Linked DNA regions of Homo sapiens. The protein of the gene in region 4 purifies or fractionates together with the protein of the main gene of each other region. This does not show direct contact. Each region holds a gene or a part of one and is shown on either strand. Other genes may lie near its edges. The genes, in order: BICRA, DPF3, SS18L1, STK11IP and ARID2.

The links.
Region 1: the proteins of STK11IP (region 4) and BICRA purify together in Homo sapiens (affinity purification with mass spectrometry, with the first as the bait; one large-scale study listed by BioGRID). This does not show direct contact.
Region 2: the proteins of STK11IP (region 4) and DPF3 purify together in Homo sapiens (affinity purification with mass spectrometry, with the first as the bait; one large-scale study listed by BioGRID). This does not show direct contact.
Region 3: the proteins of STK11IP (region 4) and SS18L1 purify together in Homo sapiens (affinity purification with mass spectrometry, with the first as the bait; one large-scale study listed by BioGRID). This does not show direct contact.
Region 5: the proteins of STK11IP (region 4) and ARID2 purify together in Homo sapiens (affinity purification with mass spectrometry, with the first as the bait; one large-scale study listed by BioGRID). This does not show direct contact.

What each region holds. Positions count from the first base shown.
Region 1 is NC_000019.10:47,692,627-47,696,143, forward strand, and holds part of BICRA (BRD4-interacting chromatin-remodeling complex-associated protein), read left to right. Parts: intron 1-1,488; coding exon 1,489-2,100; intron 2,101-2,273; coding exon 2,274-2,454; intron 2,455-2,738; coding exon 2,739-2,848; intron 2,849-3,517. UniProt on the Homo sapiens protein: Component of SWI/SNF chromatin remodeling subcomplex GBAF that carries out key enzymatic activities, changing chromatin structure by altering DNA-histone contacts within a nucleosome in an ATP-dependent manner.
Region 2 is NC_000014.9:72,621,590-72,625,106, reverse strand, and holds part of DPF3 (zinc finger protein DPF3), read left to right. Parts: intron 1-3,517. UniProt on the Homo sapiens protein: Belongs to the neuron-specific chromatin remodeling complex (nBAF complex).
Region 3 is NC_000020.11:62,150,258-62,153,774, forward strand, and holds part of SS18L1 (calcium-responsive transactivator), read left to right. Parts: intron 1-421; exon of another isoform or gene 422-3,517. UniProt on the Homo sapiens protein: Transcriptional activator which is required for calcium-dependent dendritic growth and branching in cortical neurons. Recruits CREB-binding protein (CREBBP) to nuclear bodies.
Region 4 is NC_000002.12:219,611,348-219,614,864, forward strand, and holds part of STK11IP (serine/threonine-protein kinase 11-interacting protein), read left to right. Parts: exon of another isoform or gene 1-14; intron 15-256; coding exon 257-487; intron 488-607; coding exon 608-711; intron 712-1,780; coding exon 1,781-1,878; intron 1,879-2,404; coding exon 2,405-2,583; intron 2,584-2,813; coding exon 2,814-2,895; intron 2,896-3,128; coding exon 3,129-3,199; coding exon of another isoform or gene 3,200-3,342; exon of another isoform or gene 3,343-3,517. UniProt on the Homo sapiens protein: May regulate STK11/LKB1 function by controlling its subcellular localization.
Region 5 is NC_000012.12:45,848,192-45,851,708, reverse strand, and holds part of ARID2 (AT-rich interactive domain-containing protein 2), read right to left. Parts: intron 2,874-3,517; coding exon 2,739-2,873; intron 2,152-2,738; exon of another isoform or gene 2,130-2,151; coding exon 1,933-2,129; intron 1,674-1,932; coding exon 1-1,673. UniProt on the Homo sapiens protein: Involved in transcriptional activation and repression of select genes by chromatin remodeling (alteration of DNA-nucleosome topology). Required for the stability of the SWI/SNF chromatin remodeling complex SWI/SNF-B (PBAF).

The DNA.
Region 1 (3,517 bases), on a different chromosome or scaffold from region 4:
CCACCAGCCGTACACAGCGCCAAGGACTGCGCCTCTCATCTCTTCTTAGAGGTGGCAAACCTTTTGAAGACTGATTGATTGATTGGTTTGGTTTGGTTCTTTAACTGTCAGAAGTTACTCAGGGCCCAGCTTGGAAGGGATGCTGGAAGGGCCCTGGGACTTAGAGGCCAAAGCTGGTGGTGAATCTGATGTCATGCCGAGATGCCCGGTTCTGGAGTGTGGTGGTGCTGGCTGTCCTCGGGCAGATATCCTGAGCCCTCTGAGCCTGAACTCAGTCAGCTTTGAGAAATGGCTCAGAAGTCACTGAGCAGTGTAAAGGCCTCAGTTCCGCCTTCACCAGCCTGGAGAGTCTGGACCAGTTTTGGAGCCTTGGCCTCAGTTTCTTATCTGTGAAATGGGTCCAGTGTTACCACTGCCCTCAGGGCTAGGGAGAGATCACACAAATGGATGCGGGAGGCCGGCCATTCGTGTTAGATCAGCATGAGCTGTTACTAGGATGCAGATTCTGTGACAGCAAGTATCACGGTGCCAGCCCAGTGTTGGGTGCACAGCTGGTGCCCACTGGTTACACAGTGGCTGCTCTGGTTATGATTCTTTGGGAGGAGGGTCCAGAACGGCAAGGTGCTCCGTCTGAGACATGCTTTAGGCGAGGTGGCTGTGTGCGTGTGACAGAACTAGCACCAGATCGCGTGTGCTTGCAGACACAGGCTTCATCAGAGTCTGGTACGTCGTGCACACGCATGCACGCTTGTACCTGCAAGCTCACGTGGCGCCCAGGTAGGCCTGCAGCCATGGACACACAGGCACACAGAGGCAGGTGCCCAGGACACTTAGAAGGGGGTCCAGGCCTTCCCATGCCCGCATCCAGAGGTCCACACGTGGCTGTGAACCCAGGCCTGTCCCTGTGTGGCCATCCGTATTCTCGGCAGCCCCCGTGCCGTGGCCATCAACCCCGAGCCATGGTACACAGCATCATGCTGGTGTCTCTTTGCCTTGACTTGGCTGGATGGGCTGGTGGGGGCTGGCGGCTGGGACGCTGCCCTGCCTGCCCTCCTTCCCCGCTGCTGTGCTCGCCGCCCGGCCCTCCTGCCTCCTGCTGGGCAGCGGGTGTGGTGCCCCTGCTGCCACCGCCACCACTGCCTCTGCTTCCTCTGCTGCTGCCACCCCAACCCTGCAGGGCTCGCCTTTGTCTGGGGAACTGCGAGGGGTGGGGGGAATGGGGCAGAAGTGGGGTTGAGATCGGAGGCCAGAGAAATGTGGAGGAGCTGCGGTGGGGGACAGAGGTCGAGGGCAGGTGGAGGGGGTGCTGTGGGGAATGAGAGGCGAGGGAGGGAAGGGCAGCCGTGGTGGGCTCCTCTCTCAGGATGGGTGTGGGCTAGGAAGGGGGCTTCTGGCGGGGATGGCTGGGGACCCCAGTGTCTTGGGGCAACAGGAGCTATGGTTGGTTCTGACCCCCGCCCCTCCCCTCTCCCTCCCTCCCCTGCCCAGATCCCGGCAGCGGCTCCGCTGAAGGGCCCAGGCCCCTCTTCGTCCCCGTCACTACCTCACCAGGCCCCTCTGGGGGACAGCCCCCACCTGCCCTCCCCACACCCCACCCGGCCCCCTTCCCGCCCACCCTCCCGGCCACAGAGTGTGTCCCGCCCTCCCTCAGAGCCACCCTTGCACCCTTGCCCCCCACCCCAGGCCCCCCCAACTCTGCCTGGCATCTTTGTCATCCAAAACCAGCTAGGCGTTCCCCCGCCTGCCAGCAACCCGGCCCCTACTGCCCCAGGCCCGCCGCAGCCGCCTCTCCGCCCCCAGTCCCAGCCGCCTGAGGGACCGCTGCCCCCAGCCCCCCACCTCCCTCCATCCTCCACCTCCTCTGCTGTGGCCTCCTCCTCTGAGACGTCCTCCAGGTTGCCAGCCCCTACGCCATCCGACTTCCAGCTCCAGTTCCCACCCAGCCAGGGGCCCCACAAGTCCCCCACTCCCCCTCCAACCCTCCACCTGGTCCCTGAGCCGGCAGCACCCCCCCCACCGCCTCCTCGGACCTTCCAGATGGTGACCACCCCCTTCCCAGCGCTGCCCCAGCCGAAGGCTCTTCTCGAGAGATTTCACCAGGTAACGGGAGGCAGGGACTGCCCGCCCCATCAGCCCCATCCCATCCCACCCTCTCAGTCTGATGGGAGCCCCTCCGCCTTACGGCTCTGTGATCCTCCCCAGCCCTGCTGCGTCTGGACACCCCTACACCTAGCCTATGTTCCCCACCCCTCATCCACCTGTCCCCTCCTCAGGTGCCGTCCGGAATCATCCTCCAGAACAAGGCTGGGGGGGCCCCTGCCGCCCCGCAGACCTCCACCAGCCTGGGGCCCCTCACCAGCCCCGCTGCGTCTGTGCTGGTCAGTGGGCAGGCCCCATCTGGGACCCCCACTGCCCCCAGCCACGCCCCCGCCCCGGCACCCATGGCCGCCACAGGTAGGAGAGAGGTCGCCTATGTGCCCAGGGAGACGGGGCCTGAAGATGGGTGGGCGGGGCTGAGCAGGGAGAATGGGCTGGGGCAGGGCTGTGGGACTCAGCACAGGGCATCAGCCAGAACTCAAGGGACACAGGAAGGCCAGAGGTGGCAGGGCTGGCCCCAGATTTGAAGGGCCGGAGGGCCAGGAGGAGAGCGGTGGGGTACAGGATGGGGCTCCCGTTTGAGGAGGGGGCCTTCATGCAGTGACCGCAGGCCCTGTCTCCCCCACCCCACCCACCCCCAGGCCTCCCTCCTCTGCTTCCAGCCGAGAACAAGGCTTTTGCCAGCAACCTCCCGACCCTGAATGTGGCCAAGGCCGCTTCCTCCGGGCCAGGGAAGCCCTCCGGGCTGCAGGTAAGGGGCCCTTAGAGCAGGGGTCAGGACAGGACCAGGAGTCTTCGGGAACTGGGAACTGGGGCTGGCAGGGGCAGGGAGACACTGGAAGACGCGGACAGGATGAAGCTGGGACCATCAGGCAGCTGAGACACCACGAACAGCCGTGCAGGGACAGGAAGGGCAGAATGACACCCAGACAGGCAGCCAGAGATGAGGGAGAAACACGGAGACGGTGGGACGGAGACGGCACCAAGACTACTGGCAACAGTGTAAGGGACTATGACTGGGGAAAGAGCAGGTGATATGGACACAGGACGGGAAGGACAGGGCTGAGATGACAAGATGTGAGCTCAGGACAGGAAAGGCGGGTTTAGATGAGACAGACCGGAGACGGAGCAGATCAGGGACCGAGAATGAAAGGGTGAGAGGGTGGGGACAGCTGAGGCCGAGGCCACTTGTAGATGTAAGACGTGGGGGAGACAGAAGACAAGGAGAGGAGCAGGTGGGAGGACCAGGACCCAAGAGGCCGGGAGAAGCTCAGAGATGGAGATGCCAGAATGAAGGCCAGACGCTGAGGACAAGAGGGGAAGCCAGGAAGGGAGGCGGGGGGGCGAAACGACAGGAGCCACACTGGGAGAGAGACTGTGCGAGGCAGGGGCACTGGGTGCTGGGCGGTGATGTGGGAAG
Region 2 (3,517 bases), on a different chromosome or scaffold from region 4:
TATTTACATAATCTCAAATATCCTATTTCTCTTGTTGAGGAGATAATCTCCAAGTATCTCCCCAACAATATTACTTATTAGTATATTACAAAGGGAAAAACAGTAACTTTACAGTGAAAAAAATGGCAGACACTACCTTAACTATATAATCACAGATAACATTACAAGTAATAAGACGTACTGGCCTCAATTTCCCCCGATATGATGCGCCAAGAAGGGCACAACATTACTTTAGTGGTATTCTTGCTAAAAAATGTATGCATATGTGGATCTTATCATGAGAAAAGATCCAACTGAAATTGAGTGACATTTACAAAATCACTGGCTTGGATTTTTTGAAAGTGTCAAGCTCATGAAAGACAAAGAAACTGAGGAACTGTCACAGATTGAAGGATACTGAGAAAACACAACAATTAAATGCAATGAGGGATCTTGGATTGGATCCCTGGTAAAGAGACATAGGTTGGGGGCCGGGCGTGGTGGCTCACGCCTGTAATCCCAGCACTTTGGGAGGCTGAGGCGGGCGGATTACCTGAGGTCAGGCGCTGGAGAACAGCCTGGCCAACTTGGTGAAGCCCTGTCTCTACTAAAAATACAAAAATTAGCCAGGCATGGTGGCACATGCCTGTAATCCCAGTTACTCAGGACGCTGAGGCAGGAGAATTGCTTGAGCCCGGGAGAAGGAGGCTGCAGTGAGCCGAGATGGCACCACTGCACTCCAGTTTGGGCAACAGAGTGAGACTCTGTCTCAGAAAAAAAAAAAAAAAAAAAAAGAGACATAGGTGGGAAAACTGGAGAAATTAAAATAAAGTCTGTAGATTAGTTAACAGTATTACACCAATGGTAATTTTCTGATTTTCGTAATTCTGCTATAGTAATATAATATGTTAATATTAGGGCACAGTGAGTACAATTCTCTGCATAATTTCTGCACTTTTCTCTAAGTTTAAAATTATTTCAAATAAATAAATAAAAATATAGTGTGATGTTTCTCTAGCATCTTCTGAAGGTGACTAAGGTTTTAAAAAATATGTTTATGAACTTAAGATTTTAAACATATTTTATTTGTTATAATCCATTATAGGTAAAATTGTCCCATCTTTGACCAGTGGTAACATATTCAGGTTGGATCCTGAGTCCTTTTGACATAATCCTAATAGTATTTGATAGCTTCCTTACTTTGTAATATGTAAATATATTTATACATTTTATGCTCCAGACCTGGAATCACTTATTTCTCCCAGGACTCCTAATTCCTTTTAGTGGGCAATGGTCTTTAGAGAACATAATATGGGTGCTAGAGGTGCTAATTTTGCTGTTAGTCATTGTTTTGGAGCACTTTCTGTGGACAGAGGTAGAAAATATTTTTTGCTTGTTTTAAAGATACACTACACCATGAATTTATACTGATGCATCCAGTTCATACTTAGAACCAACTACTGACTTTTGACTTAACTTCATTGGCCTACATTTCTATTTTCTTTCAACCATGTTACAAAATCTTGCTCTTCAATAATACCAACATAATTACTCATTTGATGCACATAAAGCAGTCTCAGAATATTGATTCCAATATTTAAACCAATAATATAATTGCTGAACATTACACACACACACACATATATATGCAGATCTGCATTTATGTATGACCTTAAGGTATGTCCTACTAAGGATGTATTGTCAAATTAATTGTTTTATAGTCAGATGGAATAGTTTCTCTCTGTGTGGTTATGCTACCAATTGGATACATAACCAAATTCATTTGCCTCATTTTTCTTTTGTTTTTTTTAGGGACATATTGCTATTTAAATTTTGTTTTATGACTGTGTAAAATATTTATTGGTTCTAAAATCAAATTTATAAAGAAACATTATATTCAAAGAAATGTAGCTCTCTACTTACCTCTTCCACACTATTCCTTCACTCTGCATATAGGCAACCACTAAAAAATATGATTTGTCTTTCCATTTTGTTTAAATGTAAACATGTGTGTGTATATATGAATCCATGAAAAATGGTAACAAGTATATATGTTTTCTCCATCTTGCTTGTTTTCTCTGAATATCTTAGAGATTAATCTGGAGGAATATATAGACATTCTTCATTCCTTCCTACAGCTGCATAATTTTTACTTATCCAACCATTCCCTTATTGATGGACATTTAGGTTGACGCTGGTCTTTGGCTTTACAGATAGTGTAAATGTAGAGGATTTTTTTGTTGACTTGGCAGAGCCTTTGAGGAGGAGTCAGGGGGTGAGGTTGTTGGGGCACTAGGATTCCTCTCACATGGTCAGGGATTTACCCTGGATATCCGAGAATGGGATTCCCATTCTGCTGGAACTGTAGTAATAGGTGATTCCTGGTTCCTGGATAGTTGGTAGTGAGAGGTACTAAAATTGTGTTTGTCATGAGAGTTAGCATAAGCTGGGGGCTCTTGGTGGTGGAAGAGAAGAGAATATGGTGCTAGACAGTGGTCAACCCATGCAAAATGCACTTAAACTCTCAGATGCCTAGTTTTCCTTTGGGAAATTGTAATCCAGGATATTCTACCTATTTGTATTTCCCATGTCACTGCTGTAGTAGGGGTTATTACTGTTTTTAAGGCATTAATAACACTGTTTCTGACAAGTCCTGTCTGTTTTCTGTCTCCATCCTAACTTGTTTCTCCTTGTATTATCCCTAAATCAAATTGTCCTGTAGCTTATGCTGGCTCTGCAATAATGATGTAACTGTTTTGGCGTAAACTACAGTGTGCTCGTCTTCATCCCACCTCTCTGACTGTTCCTTTTCAGTCTTTTTTTCTCTGCCTGTCCTGTAAAGTTGGAGTACCCCAAGTGTACTTCTTCTCAGTAAACTCTTGGCCTTCTTCTCAGTAAACTCTTTTGGGTCCTTGATCTTTCAGAGAATTCAATGAAAGCTACGGACTTACTCTTTCCATAGAAAAATGTACATTTCTACCTATGTACAAAATTGTGTGTATCATTTCAAGGGGTTCATGGACACTTCTCCATGAAGACAAGGTCAAAGACATTTGCTCTCACACATTCTGGGCTTCCTCTCCTAGGACCTTCACTTGCCATCTAATTACAATGAATCCCAAGTCCATATCTCAGGCCCAGACTTCTCTCCTGCTCTCTTCAACAGCCTCCAGGTCATCCCTATCTGTAGAACATGTCTATAGCTGAGGTTGCCCTCTCCCTCCCATGAGTCTGCTCTTCCTCCCATGTCCCATTGGGTGGCTGTATCATCTGGCTTGCTGACCAAGCCACAACCCAGACGGCATCCTTGGCTTCTTCCCTATCACTCTCCCCATCTAATCAATGATGCTTAAATGGGAGCAAGACCCATTTCTTTCTCCATGCCGCAATTGTAATTCAGGCCACCATCATCACGCACCTGGATAGCTATAGCAGCTTCCTAACTGGTCCCCGGGCCTCTTGAATGAACCTCTCCCCCACTGGGTATCTACTCTTACATAGCAGCTAGTAAGATCTTTCTAAACTGCAATCTGATCGT
Region 3 (3,517 bases), on a different chromosome or scaffold from region 4:
TAGTATCGGCTTGCTGACCTCGGGGGCAGGGACGGAGCAGCTCAGGCTGGGCTCAGAGGGAAGGACTGCTGATGGGTCAGCGATGTCTGCCCCGAGAACAGGAGTGGCAGGCGCTAGCGCAGGTGCCATCGCTGGCTTAGCCACCTGCTGATGCTCGACCAGCTCTCCGGTTAGCCAGGCTGGTCCCCCTCACACCTTGATGACTCCTAGGAATTGATTCTGCGTCTGTGTCCACGCCATGCGTGGGGAGTGCATGGCAGCCCTGCATGTAGTGGCAGAAGACGGGGAACAATTTCAATGTCTGTCCAAGCAGACAGAGTACTACGTTGTGTCCATGTTGTGGAATTCTCCGGAGCATAAGAAACATTGAGGTGGATTTTTTTTTTTTTTTTTTTTTTTTTTTTTTTTTTTTTGGAGACAGAGTCTTGCTCTTTCGCCCAGGCTGAGGTGCAGTAACGTGATCACAGCTCGTGCAGCCTTGTCCTCCTGGGCTCAAGGGACAGGTGAGGTCTCTATGTGCTGACAGAGGACAGTCTCCAAGATGTTTGAGAGGAAAGGGAGCTGTGTGGAGCAGCGGGAGCGAAACGTTATCAGGTGTGTGCAGAGTCGGGAGGGGAGTGCACAGGCTCCATGCCAGACGCTTCCAGAATCGGCAGAGCTGGCCTCTGGGGAAGAGGAGCCAGGGGTTCCTCCTGCAAAATTAAAAAGGTTCCAAAAGTCTTTGTAATTAGAAAGGACAACCATGAGGACACTGGAGGTCTTCCTGCCCAGTGTGGGCTGAGCCAGCCCCGGCAGTGAGCCTCAGAGCCCCAGGCCTCCTCTGTCTGGCTTCCAGGGCCCCACACAGGTTGTCATTGGGGAGAGACTGTTCTGCTGAGAGCCCCTCACCCAGGTTTTTGCCTGGTAGCCCCAGCCCTTCCCCTACTCTCTGTGGGCTCTGGGACCCCAGTTCTCCGTCCCTGGTTCTCATCCTCACTCCCTCGCCTACCCAGTTAGGACCCCACGGTGGGGCTTCAGCAGCCCCAGACCCCATCCTTGGTGCCTGGCTGTGCCCTGGGCCCTCCAAGCCAAGCCCCGTGTCCCCCGTCAGTCCCCGCTTGCCAAATCCAGTTTCTCTGCTCACCCACATGGTCCATTGCCATGGCCGTGGCTTCCGTGCCCCTTGGGTTTGTCTCCCTGTGGGTGCTGGGCTTGGCCCTGGGCATCAGCCAGCCTGACCAACAGAGACACGTTGGGGCCACCCCTCAGAGCCTGAGACCACAGGGGTGACCACGCAGAGAGGGAGTGGGAGGCCCAGGTGTCCCAGCTGCCCCAGCCACGAGCCCAGCCAAGCCCAGCAGAAGATCCTCCGAACCAGCCCAGAATCATGAGAACTAAGAAATCATGTTTCAACCACGCGGCTCCGGGAGGTTTGTTGCGCATTGGGTAATGGATGCACCCAGCCGCGTTGGGATCTTGGTCCAGCCAGTCTCTGCAGTGAGCACAGGCTTTGGTTGAGAAAGTCACCCCCACAATGGGCACAGGACTCCTGTCCCCCAGCAGCCCCCGTTCCCCTCTTTTCCCGCTCCCCATAGCTGGCCTCCCCCGTTCCCCTCTTTTCCCGCTCCCCAGAGCTGGCCTTCCCCGTTCCCCTCTTTTCCCGATCCCCAGAGCTGGCCTCCCCCGTTCTCCTCTTTTCCCTCTCCCCAGAGCTGGCCTCCCCCGTTCCCCTCTTTTCCCGGTCCCCAGGGCTGGCCTCCCCCGTTCCCCTCTTTTCCCGCTCCCCAGAGCTGGCCTCCATTCCTGGAGATGCCCCGTGGCCTTCACACATGCCTGTTTCCTCCATCGGGCCGCCCTTCCCCCACCTTACCCATGTGCTCCTGCCCAGCCTCCAGCCCAGCTGGACGTCAACCCCAGGAGTCTCCTGGGGCTCCGCTGCCTCATGGCATTGAGCAGATGCATGCCCACGTCGGTCTTCACCCGACTGGCCACCCACGCCCACTCCACCATGAGCAGAGCGGGTCGCACCTCCTCACTGTCGCCTCCACTCACCCAGGCCTAGGATGGGCACATTGATGAAGCATGCTCAGAGATGGGATCTCACCACCCCTCCTTGCTGCGGCCCCCGATGCCAGCCTCTGGCTCCTCCAGATGGAGTTGCCACCTCATCTCTGTCCCCAGCGCCCTCACCTCGGGAGGCCTCAGGCCACCAGCTTCAGTGCTTTCCCGGTGGCGTCTCTGGCGCGGGTTTACCCCTGAACCTGTAGAAACTCGGCCTCTTAGGAAAGGGTGGGGAGAACTGTATCTCACGTTGCAGAAAAATTCACAAGTGCACATCAGGAAGCTGGGAAACAGTGTCTGCAGAAGACAGCAGTAAATACAGAAGATCTAGAACGCTCCAGGCCGCGTGAATGGCTTCTTTGTTCAGCTTAGTGTTAGAGGTACACACCAGGTGGAGGAGACTCAGGTGGGCCCATCACCAGCCCTGGCAACCCCAGACTCACTTCAGGCCTCTTTAAGGTCGCTTTGCAGATGATACCGTGAGTAAATGCTTGTCTTAGAGATTTTCATAAACACAGACACATAAGAAACTACGAATCGACAACCTCCAGAGTGGGGGCCACAGCTGCCTGTCGGTGCATTTCCGTCCTGTCAGGGTCTTTTGCTTTGGATTTTATGCTCACCAAAGCCGCGCGTGCACATCAGGAGTCAAGAAGCACCATGGGCGTGTGTGTTAGTTGTTCTTACACTGCTATGAAGAAATATCTGAGATGGGGTAATTTATAAAGGAAAGAGGCTTAATTAACTCACAGTTCCACAGGGCTGGGGAGGCCTCAGGAAACTTAGAATCATGGCGGAAGGGGAAGCAAGGCACCTTCTTCACAAGGCGGCAGGAAGGAGAAGCGCAAGCAGGGGAGATGCCAGGTGCTTGTAAAACCAACAGATCTCATGCAGACTCACTCACCATCACAAGAACTGCATGGGGGAGACAGCTCCCATCCATCTAATTTCTTCCCACTGGGTTCCTCCCACGACACGTGGGGCTTATGGGAACTACAATTGAAGATGAGATTTGGGTGGGGACACAGACAGACCCTATCAGGGCATGAGTAACCTCAGGAGTAATGCCTCCCACCTCCCAGAGGCGCTGTCTTGCCCTTCTCAAGGCCAAACCAAGTGGCCACTTTGGAATGGGTTTAGGGCTGCTGACCTTACCTGGTGACCAGGGAGAACAGGTCACCCGATAAGGTCTGCCCTCCCCGCTGCACACCTGCGCTCCCCACTCATACCCGTCAGAGTGGCTTTCTCGGGGGTTGGATCTGCCTCTGCTGTTGACGTGGTGATGATAAACACCTTGCTCACTGCTGAACCACGCAGGACCGTGTGACTGCTTTTCCTGCCTGGCTTTTGTTTTCCCTGGAGTTGTTGATTGTTTTTCTTTTCAATCACTTGTCACTAGTGTATCTCCTCCTTTGCTCAGGTATTCTTCCGGGTTTCAGTCTCGGGGCTGCTCTCCGTGGGTCTCCCACCATTGGCC
Region 4 (3,517 bases):
CCTAGAGTTAGAAGGTAGAGTGCACTTTGAGGAGTTTGTGGGCCAGGGTTAGCTCATCCCTCCCTGGGGTGGGGAGTGATCAGTTGGCAGCTGTGCCGGGAGAGGGAGCTGGTGGCCTGGGGCGCGGTGGTTGTGTATGAAGCTGGAGGCTTGGGCTCAGGGGAGACCTGAGCATGGGGAAGGAGCATCGTGAGCATGGTGGGAGTTGTGGCACTGTGGGGGGGGCTCATGGGGACCGTGTCCATCCTCCCTCCAGAATCTCCTGCTGTGTGTCCTAACTGTGGTAGTGACCACGTGGTTCTCCTCGCTGTGTCTCGGGGAACCCCCAACAGGGAGCGGAAACAGGGAGAGCAGTCTCTGGCTCCTTCTCCGTCTGCCAGCCCTGTCTGCCACCCTCCTGGCCATGGTGACCACCTTGACAGGGCCAAGAACAGCCCACCTCAGGCACCGAGCACCCGTGACCATGGTAGTTGGAGCCTCAGTCCCCGTGAGTATAGGCAAAACAAGACATAGATGAGTTTGGGGAAGGGAAGGGGCACTGATGGGGAGGTGGAGATGGAGCCCAGGGGCTGCCATGGGCAGGCTGATGCCCCCTCATTGCCCTCAGCCCCTGAGCGCTGTGGCCTCCGCTCTGTGGACCACCGACTCCGGCTCTTCCTGGATGTTGAGGTGTTCAGCGATGCCCAGGAGGAGTTCCAGTGCTGCCTCAAGGTCTGTGCTCCCTGACACTGCCCATGCCCCCAGCTGTCCAGGGTGCCCACTCGTTTCCATCACAGCCAACTGAGTCAGATCAAGCACTCTAGAGACCTGATCTGGCTTCTGGTTTCAACCCCAGCAGCTTCTTGCTGTGTGGCCGTGGACACATTCCCTGGTATTTGAGTCCCAGTTGTTGCCTGTCTGCAATGGAGATAACGATGCCTCCCTTACACAGTGGCGTGCGTCAGGGCTCATGTTGAAGCTGCCCAGCCCAGCACCTGGCACTCATCAATGGGGCCTCCTAGCATTATTATAAACACATGATGTCGTTAGGCCTTTGTTGAGCACCTGTTGTGCTAGACATTGAGGATCTACAGATCAATCTTGCCCTTGATCTTACAGTCTGGTGTGAGAAGCTGACAATGATTATGCAATATGCAAATGCTGTAATCGGGCTAAGGCCCTTGAAGGGGTGTCTAGTCCAGCTTGAGTGGGTCAAGGAACCTTCCTGGGAGGTGATGTCTAAGCTCAGTCTTGAAGGGTAAGTTAAGGAGTAGGGAGGAAAAGAATGTCTTAGGTAAAGGAAGCCGCAAATGCATGGAGGCCCGAGAGTGTCGCTGGTGGGGAGAACTGCCCAGGATGAGGGCACCTGGACATGCAGGGCGAGGGGCAGGGGTCCTGAGAGGACTCTGGGGGGCCGGCAGGGGCCAGGTCAGGAGCTGCCTCCTGTGTCTGCCAAGGAGTTTGGACTTGTTTCTGAGGGCCACTGGGAGCCACTGAAGGATTTGAAATGGGGCAGTGATGGTCAGTTTTGTGCCTTAGAATAGTTAGTCTGGCGGAGCGTGGAGGGGGTGAGGCGACAGGCAGGGAAGCCAGCTGCTGAGGCTCTGAGCGGGCAGGGGCTGCAAGGCAGAGAGCGGTGGTGGATGAAGAGGCTGTCGAGTGTGAGGGAAGCTCCATAGACTGGTGGGTGGGCAGTGGGAGGGTCAGGCCGAGGGTGCTGTCACCAGGAACTCGGCTTTCAGTCTGGCCCCACCTCCCCAGGCCTCTCATCAGGTTTCTCACCAACTTCCTCTTCCCCCAGGTGCCAGTGGCATTGGCAGGCCACACTGGGGAGTTCATGTGCCTTGTGGTTGTGTCTGACCGCAGGCTGTACCTGTTGAAGGTGACTGGGGAGATGCGGTGAGTGAGAGGGGAGATGCAGTGAGTAAGGGGGGAGATGGGGTGAGTTGGGGGGAGATGGGGGAGTGAGGGGGAAGATGGGGTGAGGGGGGAGATGGGGTGAGTGAGGGGGGAGATGGGGTGTTAAGGGGGGAGATGGGGTGAGTGAGGGGGGAGATGGGGTGAGAGAAGGGGGAGATTGGGTGAGTGAGGGGGAGGTGGGGTGAGTGAGGGGGGAGGTGGGGTGAGTGGGGGGGAGGTGGGGTGAGTGGGGGGGACGTGGGGTGAGTGAAGGGGGAGATGGGGTGAGTGGGGGGCGGAGATGGGGTGAGTGGGGGGCGGAGATGGGGTGAGTGAGGGGGGAGATGGGGTGAGTGAGGGGGAGATGGGGTGAGTGAGGGAGGAGATGGAATGAGGGGGAAGATGGGGTGTGGTGAGCGCACGGGGGTGATGCAGTGAGTGAGGCAGGTGCAGCTGGGGCAGGGCCTCTCTGGGACTCTCACTCCACTCTCATGCTTCTCCATTGCTCTGTCCCCTCTCTCCACAGTGAGCCTCCAGCTAGCTGGCTGCAGCTGACCCTGGCTGTTCCCCTGCAGGATCTGAGTGGCATAGAGCTGGGCCTGGCAGGCCAGAGCCTGCGGCTAGAGTGGGCAGCTGGGGCGGGCCGCTGTGTGCTGCTGCCCCGAGATGCCAGGCATTGCCGGGCCTTCCTAGAGGAGCTCCTTGGTGAGAGAGGGGAGGGGAAGGCAGGAGGGTGGGCAGGAGGGTGGGCAGGGCCTTGGGGCCAGGCTCCCCACCTGGTACCCAGTAGCGGAGACAGAGAGGTAACAGGACTTGTCCCTTGTAGAAGTTTCTGAAATCCAGAAATGTGGAGAATAGGAAGGGATTGAGAGGTGGTGAGTTTAGGCTGGAGGAGAGCAGAGCCTTCTAAAGTTCCCTGGCCTGCCTCTGTCTAGATGTCTTGCAGTCTCTGCCCCCTGCCTGGAGGAACTGTGTCAGTGCCACAGAGGAGGAGGTCACCCCCCAGCACCGGCTCTGGTGAGTCGATAGGAGGCAGAGGCTGGGGTTGCTGCCCAATCCTCTTTCCACAGAGCCCCAGACATGGCCCTGTGCTGAGTAGGTCCTGGGCAGCCACCTGTCCTCATGCCATGCCCCTTATGGGCCCCTAGTGTCTCCTCCCAACCCCCTGCAGGGCTTTCTTCCCACTCCCCTCTCTTCAAGTCCTTCCCACCCGCTAGCTGATCTTCCTGTGCCTGCCATATTCCCTCTAGGCCATTGCTGGAAAAAGACTCATCCTTGGAGGCTCGCCAGTTCTTCTACCTTCGGGCGTTCCTGGTTGAAGGTGAAGCCTCTGTGCAGCTGATGCTTCCCTGGTCTCTGTACCCTACCTTGTCACAGGCACTGGCCCACGCGCAGCACCTGTACAGTGCCCTTGCAGCAACTGTCAGTTCCTGGAACCTGGAGAACCTCTCACTTGAGGGCATAGCTGAGTAACAGCCTCAGTGTGCCCTGACCCTCTGGGTGGGGTTAGGAGGCACCCAGGATCCTCAGTTACCCAGAGCCTTTGCTCTCGGGCCCAGGCTTTCTATGAAGTGGAGCAGCGTGGCTGAGTCGGCCCTGCCTCATCAGTCACAGAAGGAGAGGGTGGAGCCTTGTTTCT
Region 5 (3,517 bases), on a different chromosome or scaffold from region 4:
GAGCTGAGTTGCATTTCCCTGACTCACAGTTGCAGGTGCAAAACTCGTATTTGGCACAACTGTTATGGTTACCTGGTTGCCAGAAGTCCCTTGGAAAATGGTTGCTGGGCTATTTGAGATCAGTGGACCTGGCAATATTTGTAAGTTCGAAATGGGCACAGTTTGTACTCCCCCTGAGGGTGGCATTGCACTTGGGACCAACTGAACATTTTGCTGCCCAACCAATAGCTGCTGAGCTGGAGTTTGCCCCTGCACTCCAAAACCTGCGGCTTGGTTACTGGCCACCTGATAGACCACCTGAGGGCTAGGAGCTCTTGCATTATTAGGGGGAGGAATCTGTGGAGCTGGGAGAATAAGCTTACCACCTGGTGTTGAAGGACCACGTTTCGGAAGCAGAAGCTGTTTAATCAGACTCGACTCACCAGAGGCAGGCTGACCAACTCCTGCATTCGACTGTTGAGGTTGAACTTGCATCTGTACTTGTTGGGGCTGCTGAACTTGTACTTGTACCTGCTGTGGTGGGGGTGCTGGTGAATGTTGCTGCTGTTGCTGCCTTTTCACAGATAACATTTGACTGACAGTAGGAGGTGGTCCCTGTGATTGAGGGGTAGAGGACGACGACATGGCAGTAGGGACTTGGTTATTAGTAGCTGGGACAGGTGATGGTGAAGAAGATGGAGTTATGTTAGGTTGTCCAGTTAGCTGAACTGTCTGACCAGCTGGAAGAGCTGCTGGATTAGCAAGAACAATTTGGTGAATGGCTGGTGCATAAGTTTGACCTTGTTGAGCTGGCTGGCTTACAATCACTACGCTTTGTTGGGTTGGCTGCTGTGGTTGTTGAATAGGCTGCTGTACCACTGTAGATGAAACTTGCTGAGAAGGGAGAGGTTTTGGTGCAATGTTCTGAAACCCTACCCTTGAGGCTTGTGGACTTGGGACACCAGCAATAGTAACCATTTGTCCTGTAGCTACCTGAAAATTCTGTACTGAAGTTGCTGAGACAATATTGGATGCAGAAGTTGTTACATACTGTGGGGGTGCTATGATAACAGTATCTTGTGACTGGCTACCAGCTGATGTCTGTTGAGATGAAGTTTGCACAGGTTGGGGTGATGTGGTGATTAACTGTTGACCCTGTGAAACTGTAGAAGTACATGCTGGTATGTTCTGTACTCTGCCAAACATATGACTCTGTGGGACAGCTTGTTGAATTACTGTAACAGGAGTGCCTGAAGGGATCTGTCCTGGTACCACTGTGTGTAATGGAGACTGCTGTGGAATTACAGATGGATGGTGAAGCAATGTCTGAGAATTCACAACTGTAACAGGTTGTGGCCCTGTACTATGATTCTGAACAACAGAACTCTGTGGAGGTCCTCCTCCAACAGCAATACTAACAGGAACTCCTGTCTGGGGTATGGAATTCTGGATAACTGTAGCCTTAACAACTTCACAAGGAATTGGAGCTTTACTTTGAATGACAGTCACTGGAGCATTTTGTTGCTGGTGGGTATGAGGTGAAGGATTTTGTGGAATTCTTGAAACAGTTTGTGCCACAGTATGAACACCTTGTACAGGAAAAGACATTTGTGTTGCAGTCAGATTTGAAGATTGGTTGGCAACAGGAGTCCTCTGAAAATGGTTTCCTATGGTTTGTGATCCATGAGGGATTCCTGAAAATATGAAGAAAACGTCAAAATTCCAAATGAAATGACTGAAAATCCCAAGTAGGAATTATTTTACTTAAGAGAAAATAGTTTTAAGAAATTAACATCTAACAATTTTGAATCATATGAATATGGTAATAGACCAAGTAAGAAAATGCTACTGGAGACACAAAAGTTATACATTTAAAATGCATAGAATATATATTTTTCATTCAGTTTTATTATTAAATCAGTAATACTTTAAAAATACAATAAAAATTAACACCTGCAGGTGAAGGAGCAGGAGATACATCAGGAACAGAATCAACACGAACAACAGAAGTAGAAACTGGTTGCTGCTGATAGTACATCTGAATGGGAAGTGGTATAGCCCTCCGTTTTACTCCTACCACATGAATATGTGCCTGCCCATTGCTACTGGAATCCTCCACTCTCTTCACTGTATGATTTGGAAAGACCGTTCTGTAAAGTACATACATAATCAGTAAGTTTTGATAACTATCACATTGACTTCTAACATTATGTTTACATGAACAACAGCAGTATGTTTACTGTTGCTTATGTATGAACCAGTATGACTCACAGTTATATTCTGCAAGGATGGAAAGCAAAGAAATATAAAAGATTAATCATCCCATTTAAAACATCATTATTTATTAACAATGTCGCTGGGTTTTAAACAATTCCACCCACATATAACTAATAAAAGATACCTATTTTTATGTACTTTGCAAAATATCAAAAAGTCTTTGTATTTGAAGATAATAATATTATATTCTATTATTCAAGATTAAAAAGATACAGTCATGTCTTTAACATGTAAAAGTAGGTAGGAAAAAGAAAGTAAACTTCATTTCTTTGATAAATCTCATAATGTTCCAACACAAACACTAGATGTGATTTCTGAAACTGCTTTTTATTTAAACCTCCACCACACTATAACCTATCCATACGAAACTTCTAGTAGTAGAAATATTTAAAACTAGATAAGATATTTGGTATTTTCTTTAAAGAGCAAGAGATGTTGTAAGTGACGTAAATGGACTTTATTTAAAGAACTATGGATCCTACCTAAGACATTTATAAAATCCAGTTGATGTTAGGATTCCACCACGAGCTAATTTACTGCAAGTCGAGAGGTATTCAGAATACATTTCTGCTCGAGAAACAGAACAATCTGGATTTACTTCAAAATGAGCATTTAGCCTAAAAGAGGAGAAAAATTAAGCATTATACAATATACTCTAGGAAACTCCATATTTAAATATACTAAAGCCATGTGGAGGCAATGTGTTAAAACTAATAATTATACCTACTAATCAAATTTCACTGACTCATACGTTAGTAGCAAAAATATATGCTAAATTTTAGATTAAATCAATAGATTAACATGCTTATTTTAGTATTAAAAATGACACTGACAACAAATATAAAAACTATGTTCACATCCCAATGAGAGCAGGGTTGGTCTGCTGACAACAAATGTTCTATAAGAAATAGTTTTATTTAGTGAATATCTATTCGGCATCCTGTCTTGTAATAATCATAACATAAAACAAGTTCCCAATTACGTGCTATTTGCATTGTAGCTGAAGAAAATGGGGGGAAACTGAACTAAGGTTAAACTTTCCTTGGCTCTTGGATCAAATTCCTTCAGAAAAAACTTATCCAAGCTTTTCAGCTACTTCCTAAAACAATGACACTTTCCATGCTGCACACTCCCATTTCCCCATTTCAAAACAGTTTTAATTTGTAATCCATTACAAACTAATTCAAACCTCATTTTGTCTTTTTCTTAAAATGACCTTTACCTATAAATTGGGATTGGAGGCCTGATTACCCTGATAGGC